Homo sapiens: one gene and its partner. The protein of the gene in region 1 interacts with the protein of each later gene in a biochemical or structural test. Each region holds a gene or a part of one and is shown on either strand. Other genes may lie near its edges.

Region 1 (3,915 bases):
GAGACCAGCTTGGACAACATGGTGAAACCCCATCTCTACTAAAAATACAAAAATTAGCTGGACATGGTGGCGGGCACCTGTAATCCCAGCTACTCAGGAGGCTGAGGCAAGAGAATCGCTTGAACCCAGGAGGCAGAGTTTGTGGTGAGTTCAGATCATGCCACTGGACTCCAACCTCGGCAACAGAGTGAGACTTCGTGTCAAAAAAAAAAAAAAAAGGAGATAAGTGTCAAAAAAAAAAAAAAGGAGCTAAATGGCCTCTTAGCTACCTCACATTCACAAACAAGCACAGCTTTTTTGTTTGTTTGTTTTAATTTTTATTTTAGGCTTGGGTGTACATGCGCAGGTTTGATCTATAGATAAACTTATGTCACGGTTTACCTATGTAACTGTTGTGGAGATTATTTTGTCACCCAGGTATTAAGCCTAGTACTGAATAGTTATTTCTTCTGCTCCTCTCCCTTCTCCTACCCTCTACCCTCAAGTAGGCCCCATTGTCTGTTCTTCCCTTCTTTTTTTTTTTGAGATGAAGTCTCGCTCTGTTGCCCAGGCTTGAGTGCAGTGGTGCAATATCTGCTCACTGCAACCTCTGCCTCCCAGGTTCAAGCAGTTCTCCTGCTCAGCTTCCCAGGTAGCATGTACCACCACACCAGGCTAAATTTTTTTTTGTACTTTTGGTAGAGATGGGGTTTCACCATGTTGGCTAGGCTGGTCTTGAACTCTTGACCTCAGGTGATTTGCCTGCCTCAGCCTCCCAAAGTGCTGGGATTACAGGCTTGAGCCTATTGTTTCCTTCTTTGAGCCCATGAGTTCTCATCATTTAGCTCCTACTTATAAGGGCAGTATTTGGTTTTCTGTTCCTGCATTAGTTTGCTAAGGATAACGGCCTCTAGCTCTACCCGTGTTCACGCAAAAGACATGATCTCATTTCTTTTTATGGCTTCATAGTATTCCTTGGTGTATATATACCACGTTTTCTTTATCCAATCTGTCATTGATGGGCATTTAGGTTGACCCACTTTTTACTATTGTGAATAGTGCTACAGTGAACATTTGCATGCATGTATCTTTATAGTAGAATGATTTATACTCCTCTGGGTGTATACCCAATAATGGGATTGCTGGGTCGAATGATAGTTCTGTTTTTAACTCTTTGAGGAATTGCCACATTGCAAAACGGAGCTTTAAAGTTTGTTTTCATGCCTTCTGGAAGTGAAATTCTAGAAATGTAAAGAATAAATATGAAATAACATTCTTTTTGCACTTTTGAGCCATCCGTCAGTCAAGAGAGGCGACCTTTCCGGGGAACCCAGCAGCTTTCAGGGGTTACCTGGGAGCCCAGCCTTTGGGGGCCATGGGCAGGCCCCCCACTTACTCATTACTTGGGTTTGGAAGGGTTGGAAGCTCCAGCTGAAGTTGTGCTAGACTTGTGCTTAACTAGGGAGACAGGTCACACCTACCAAAACTCACAAAAACAAAAGTGCCAGTTTTTGTCAGAGAATGAGATTCCTGTATGTTCCAGAAGTTCCTGTTGACTTATTGGCCAATTGAATGTTAATCCTCCAGAAGACAGGTCTACATGGAAAGTCGTGGTACCTATCACCACACAGTTTTGGGTGAGCCTGGAATCAGTGGGAGGATTAGTTGGGGGACTTAAATGTCTGACAACAGCCAGACCCACCAAGGGATGCCCACTCCTGCTTTTGCTGCCTCTGTTATTCATTTCTCGATATCCTTTCTTCTGACATGGTTTTTCGTCCGCTCTATAAATTACCCCTCATTGGGCTGTAATAAAGTGCTTGAATTTCCTGTTCCTGCTCTGAGAATATTTTATCTTTTCAGTGACTTCTGTACACACTGAATCTCATTTATTAGGTATTTATTTTATTTAATTCTCAAAGTTTGAGGGTACCCTGTAGTTACCCTGATATACTGCCTAAAGTATGTTTACAAAGAAGTCAATGCAGAATTATTCATTAAGAAAACTAGTGATTTAAACCATAAGTGTTTTAATCATATTAGGACCTCCTCCCCACCCCTCCCTTTTTTAAAAATAGAGACCGGGTCTTACTATGTTGCCCAAGCTGATCTTGATCTCCTAGGCTCAAGTGATCCTCCTGTCTTGGCCCCCTAGAGTGCTGGCATTACAGGTGTGAGCCACCAGGCTTGGCCTTGTATTAAAACCTCTTTATCATTTCATCCTATCCCTTTCAAGGAAGTTCAGAAAAAAGATTAAAGCTTGAAACTCGGAAAAATAATATAAACAGTTTGTAGTTGGCTGATGCCTGTAATCCCAGCACTTTGGGAGGCCGAGGCAGGTGGATCACGAGGTTAGGAGTTCAAGACCAGCCTGGCCAAGATGGTGAAACCCGTCTCTACTGAAAATACAAAAATTAGCCACACGTGGTGGTGGATACCTGTAATCCCAGCTACTCGGGAGGCTGAGACAGAGAATTGCTTGAACCCGGGAGGCGGAGGTTGCAGTGAGCCAAGGTTGTACCACTGCACACCAGCCTGGGCGACAGAGCGAGACTCCATCTCAAAAAAAAAAAAAATAGCTTCTAGTTTAAAATCTCAAATGCAGGTGCTGATTTATTGAGAACTTTTTTCCTTAGTAGTCTTTCCTAGAACAGATTATAATTAAAAGTTAGTTTATACCGGCTGGGTGCGGTGGCTCACGCCTGTAATCCCAGCACTTTGGGAGGCCGAGGCGGGTGGATCATGAGGTCAGGAGATCAAGACCGTCCTGGCTAACACCATGAAACCCTGTCTCTACTAAAAATACAAAAAATTAGACAGGCGTGGTGGCATGCATCTGTAATCCCAGCTACTTGGGAGGCTGAGGCAGGAGAATCACCTGAACCCGGGAGGCAGAGGTTGCAGTGAGCCGAGATCGTGCCACTGCATTCCGGTCTGGGCGACAGAGCAAGACTCTGTCCCTCCCCCCAAAAAAAAAAAAAAAAGTTAGCTTATACCTTAAAAATTAGGTTTACATTTAGGAAAATTTCTCCTCTCTCATTTTTTCAGTCTATGTATTTAAATATTTATGTGAAGAATCCAGCAACAGTGTTAGGATAGGGGGGTTGTGGGTTTGGGGCAGTATTAGATTTATCATATTTTAAGTTCACTGTTAAGGAAACAGATCCCCTCCATGGTGTCATCCTAAAGCAGGCCTCCTGAGCCACCTGCAGCGGTGGTGACGTTCTGTTTCCTGGGAGCCTCTGCACCAGTGGCTTTTACTGTGGCAGCCTCTCTCAGGAAGGTCCTACACTACATGCAGGCCAGGTTGGTAGATGTGGCAAAGCCATCAGAATGAGGTTTTTGATGCAGAATAAGAGGGGCTTACATCTGATCTGAAGGAAAAACGTGGGCCTTCTGCAGTCCTTGATGTTAGGACTGTAATCTGTGGTTTTCCAGGCCAGTGACTCTCATAACCATGCTCCTGGCAGACACCAGGGGCTTGGCAAGGTAGCCTGAGAGGTGGGTGCTTGGTTGGTTTCTACAAATGCAGAGAAATGTAGACTTTTTACGGTGTTAACTTTTTGTCTTATTAATCTTTTTTAAAATCATTGGTGCCTACTTATTAACACATGAACAAAGAGCAATTAACAAAGCACCCAAGCCAGCACATGGCTTCTTGCTTACGTTTTCCACGGTGTGGTTTTTACATTCAGACATGATTTACATATGTTTTTCCTCATATAAATTGTTTTTAGTTCATATGTTTTTCCTCATATAAGTTGTTCTTAGTTCATGTGACAGAATTAAACGTATCCCTATGTATCAAGGTATTCTAAGACTACCTTCAGGGACCATTTGTATAGTTCATTACTAGAAGTTTCTCTGAACATGTAGAACACTGAAAAAAGTATTTACTTTTTTTTTTTTTTTTTTTTTTTGAGACAGAGTTTCACT
Region 2 (3,915 bases), on another chromosome or scaffold:
GCCCTGGGGGCATGCACACACCCCTGAGAATTGCTGGGCTGGATCCTGCTTTAAGGGACTTGTTTCTTCCTCTTACCAAACGGAGGTGTGGCTCATGAGGACTCAGCCTTGCGTCCTGGCTGTGGCTGTGTCTTTTTGCTGTCAAATGCTGTGAACGCCGTCCGGTGTAGGGTGGTGGGTAATGCCTTGTGGGGGAGGGGAAAGATGAATAACTCACCATCTTTTTTTTTTTTTTTTTTCTTTTTTGAGACGGAGTCTCACTCTGTTGCCCAGGCTGGAGCGCGGTGGCACAATCTCAGCTCACTGCAACCTCTGCCTCCCAGATTCAAGCAATTCTCCTACCTCAGCCTCCCGAGTAGCTGAGATTACAGGCACCCGCCACCATGCCCAGCTAATTTTTTGTATTTTTTAGTAGAGACGTGGTTTCTCCATGTTGTCCAGCTGGTCTTGAACTCCTGACCTCAGGAATTCACCATCTTTCAATTCAACATGCATAGTTCACCATCTTGAATTGGAAGCCCTTGCTTTCATTATTTTGTAAAAGGTTTTTTTTTTTCTGATTATAAAAGTAATTTGATGAGTTGGGTGCGGTGGTGTGCGCCTGTAGTCCCAGCTAATTGGGAGGCTGAGGCGAGAGGATCACTTGAGCCAGGAGATCCAGGCTGTGGTGAACCGAGATTGCACCACTGCCCTCCAGCCTGGGTGACAGAGTGAGACCCTGTCTCAAATAATAAATAAATAAAAGTAATTTGTTTTTTCTTCAAGTTACCCTGCTGCACAGAGAGAACTTCATTAACATTTTGGTGTATTTACTCCTACTATTTCCCTTCAGATAGCCGAAGAAAAATAATAGTTTAGAGAATTTCACATGGGTGTCTGCACAGCCCAGGGCGGGAAGTGGTGTTCATCACCTGGAGACCCTGGTCTGGACCTGGCTCCTCTCTGTGAACCCCACCTGGGCCCACCTCTCCTCTCCTGGAGCCCCAGCAAGGGTTCCCAGCTCCAGTGAGTCCTCTCACACCCAAGGTGGTGATGCTGTCCTCTCCCCAGAGGACAGGCTGAGAAACACCGGGCTTGTGGTTGCATTCTCAGGTGTCTGAATTCTCTACAGGAAGATTTGCATGTTCTGCCTTTGGTTTGATGACAGTCTGGTTGCCCAGGCATGGCCCTGATGCCTCACAGCCTGGGTCTGTGCCTGTGGTAGGGAGTTCGGGTGCCAGCTGTGTGCTGAAGTTGTAACTGCTCCTGCGCCTTTTGTAGTTTTCTTCACTCCATCTTGGCTGGATTTGGGAGGATCATGTGTTCTCGAGTGTGAGAAACACAGGCAACCACGAAGCGTTTGACTTACTGACACACACATTGGGTTGGACCCTGGTGATGCCGTGTCTGAGGAGTCTTAGGCCGGGTCTCCACCTCTTCTGTGGCCGGCTTTTTCGATGTACTTTATCTGCAGTAACGTCACAGCCCTCCAGAATCCGCCCGGTCTCTAGAGCACAGTGGAAATTCCTTCTGCCCAGAAGAGCCATGGTCTGCCCTTTGTGGCTCCCAGCTCCACTCCCCTCGCCTCTCCCACCGTTTGCTGGTGGTTTGGCCCTGGGCTGGCTTCCGCGGCCTCCGCGCTGGCACAGGTCTTCCCTCCCAGGCCTGGGCCTTTCCAGCTGGTTGGGCAAGGCTGAGATAAGGATGTAGACTTGAATTCACTGCTAGCTGGGGGGTTGGTTTTGTTTTTGTTTTTTTAAGTATTATTTTTTTAACACATTTCAAGTCAAGAAAGTGCTTTTTAATGCCTGATTCACCGTAATGGCTGGGCTAGGTTGGAGGCAGTACTGACGTGAGGCCTGGAGCGGCCCTGGGACCTAAGCAAGGCACCGCCGCCGGGCTGCAGAGCAGGGCTGCAGGTGCACTTAGCTTCTCCCATACCCCCCTCCGCAGCAGTGGTCTGAGAGCCTCCATCGGCCAGGTACGGTCAGGCCCTGCACAGTCAGGCCCTGGGCTAGCATGATGGGGAGACAAGTGAGGCCCCTGTCTACGCTCCGGTGGGAGGGAGGCATCAGCACAAGCACACACAGACATCTCAGATCCTTTAAAGACGCTGATGAGGTTGAGGTGATGTTGGACAGTGGCAGGGGACGGGGGTGGGGCCGGGGGCAGGGGCAGGGGCAGGGGCGGGGGTGGGGATGAGCTTCCTCCAGTGAATGCGATATTGTGAGCTGGTTGGCGGAGCTAAGTTTTGGGGTGAGGCTCTGTGGACCGTGTTGAAGTCCTGGCCGGCTCTCACCCCAGTAGGCACACAGGCACACAGCACCATTGGGGTGATGTGGCTGGGGGTGTCCCAGAGCTGTGCAGGGAGGGTCTCACAGTGAGACTGGGTGCTGGGCAGTGACTCGGTCTGTGGGTACAGGGGTCAGCAGAATGGGAAGCAAGCCCAAGGAGACACATTGGCACCAGAATGAAGACAAGGCCGGCCGGTGCCTGTAGCATGTGACTGCCCCGTCTGCAGAGAGGCTGTGCTGCGAGCCCCACCCTCTGGGGGCTTCAGGCCGAGTGGGGATGTCTGGGTGCTGACCCAGGCATCGCAAAGCACACTTCCTGCCGGGGTAACTGCTGATGATTTTTAGGTCTGTTATTTCAGAATCGTTATAGCTAGGGGCCATTATTTTGAAAACCTGAACAAAAAGAATTATTCACTGTGTTAATACCACATTTAGTGACTGTTGAGCTGAATGTGGCTGAGCAGAAGAAAGCACCTGCTGTGCTGATGGCTGACTGTGGACCCGGACCGGGACCCTGAGTGCTGCCCCACTCGAGGGAGGGGCCCAGAGCAGCCTCCTTCCTCTCCTCCCAGGCGAGCCTTTCATACCTGTCCTTCTCTCAGACTTTCCCTCCTACTTCATGCTCGCCCATGCCTGTCACGCAGACCCTGCCTGACCTGCACCTGCTCCCACACCCGTGGTGGATGAGCCCCATCACCCGTACCTGTACCCCCCTCACCCGCTCCTGTACCCCCTCACCCGCTCCTATACCCCCTCACCCACACCTGTACCCCCCTCACCCGCTCCTGTACCCCCTCACCCGCGCCTGTGCCCCCTCACCCGTGCCTCTGCCCCCCTCACCCGCGCCTGTGCCCCCCTCCCCAGCGCCTGTGCCCCCTCACCCACGCCTGTGCCCTCCTCACCCATGCCGGTGCCCACCACACCTGCGCCTTTGCCCCTTCACCTGTGTCTGCACCGCCCTCACCTGTGCTGCCTTCACCTGCACCCCCTCACCCACACCTGTGCCACCCTCGCCCGCACCTGTGCCCCCCTCACCCACGTCTGCACTGCCCTCACCTGTGCTGCCCTCACCTGTGCCCCCCACCTGTGCCTGTGCCCCCCTCACCTGCTCCTCCCTCACCTGCTCCTCCCTCACCTGCTCCTGCACCACCTTCACGTGCGCCCCCCACCTACATCTGCACCTCACCTATGCTACCCTCACCTGTGCCCCCCCACCCGCACCTGTGCCCCCCTCACCCACGTCTGCACTGCCCTCACCTGTGCTGCCCTCACCTGTGCCCCCCACCTGTGCCTGTGCCCCCCTCACCTGCTCCTCCCTCACCTGCTCCTCCCTCACCTGCTCCTGCACCACCTTCACGTGCGCCCCCCACCTACATCTGCACCTCACCTATGCTACCCTCACCTGTGCCCCCCCACCCGCACCTGTGCCCCCCTCACCTGTGCCTGTGCAGCCGTCACCCATGCCATTCCTCACCTGTACCCCTCACCCATGCCTGTGCCGTTCCTCACCCGTGCCTGTGCCCCCCTCACCCGTGCCTGTGCCTCCCTCACTTGCGCTGTGCCCCCCTCACCTGTGCTGTGCCCTTTGCCTTGTGGCTGCTCCTGCACTTGGTTCTCTCTCTGTTGGTCGGTTTTCCCATTG

What was found.
Region 2: the proteins of GID4 (region 1) and MAEA form a complex in vitro, tested with the Homo sapiens proteins (one study listed by BioGRID).

The regions. Positions count from the first base shown.
Region 1 is NC_000017.11:18,049,134-18,053,048, forward strand, and holds part of GID4 (glucose-induced degradation protein 4 homolog), read left to right. Parts: intron 1-3,915.
Region 2 is NC_000004.12:1,292,666-1,296,580, forward strand, and holds part of MAEA (E3 ubiquitin-protein transferase MAEA), read left to right. Parts: intron 1-3,915.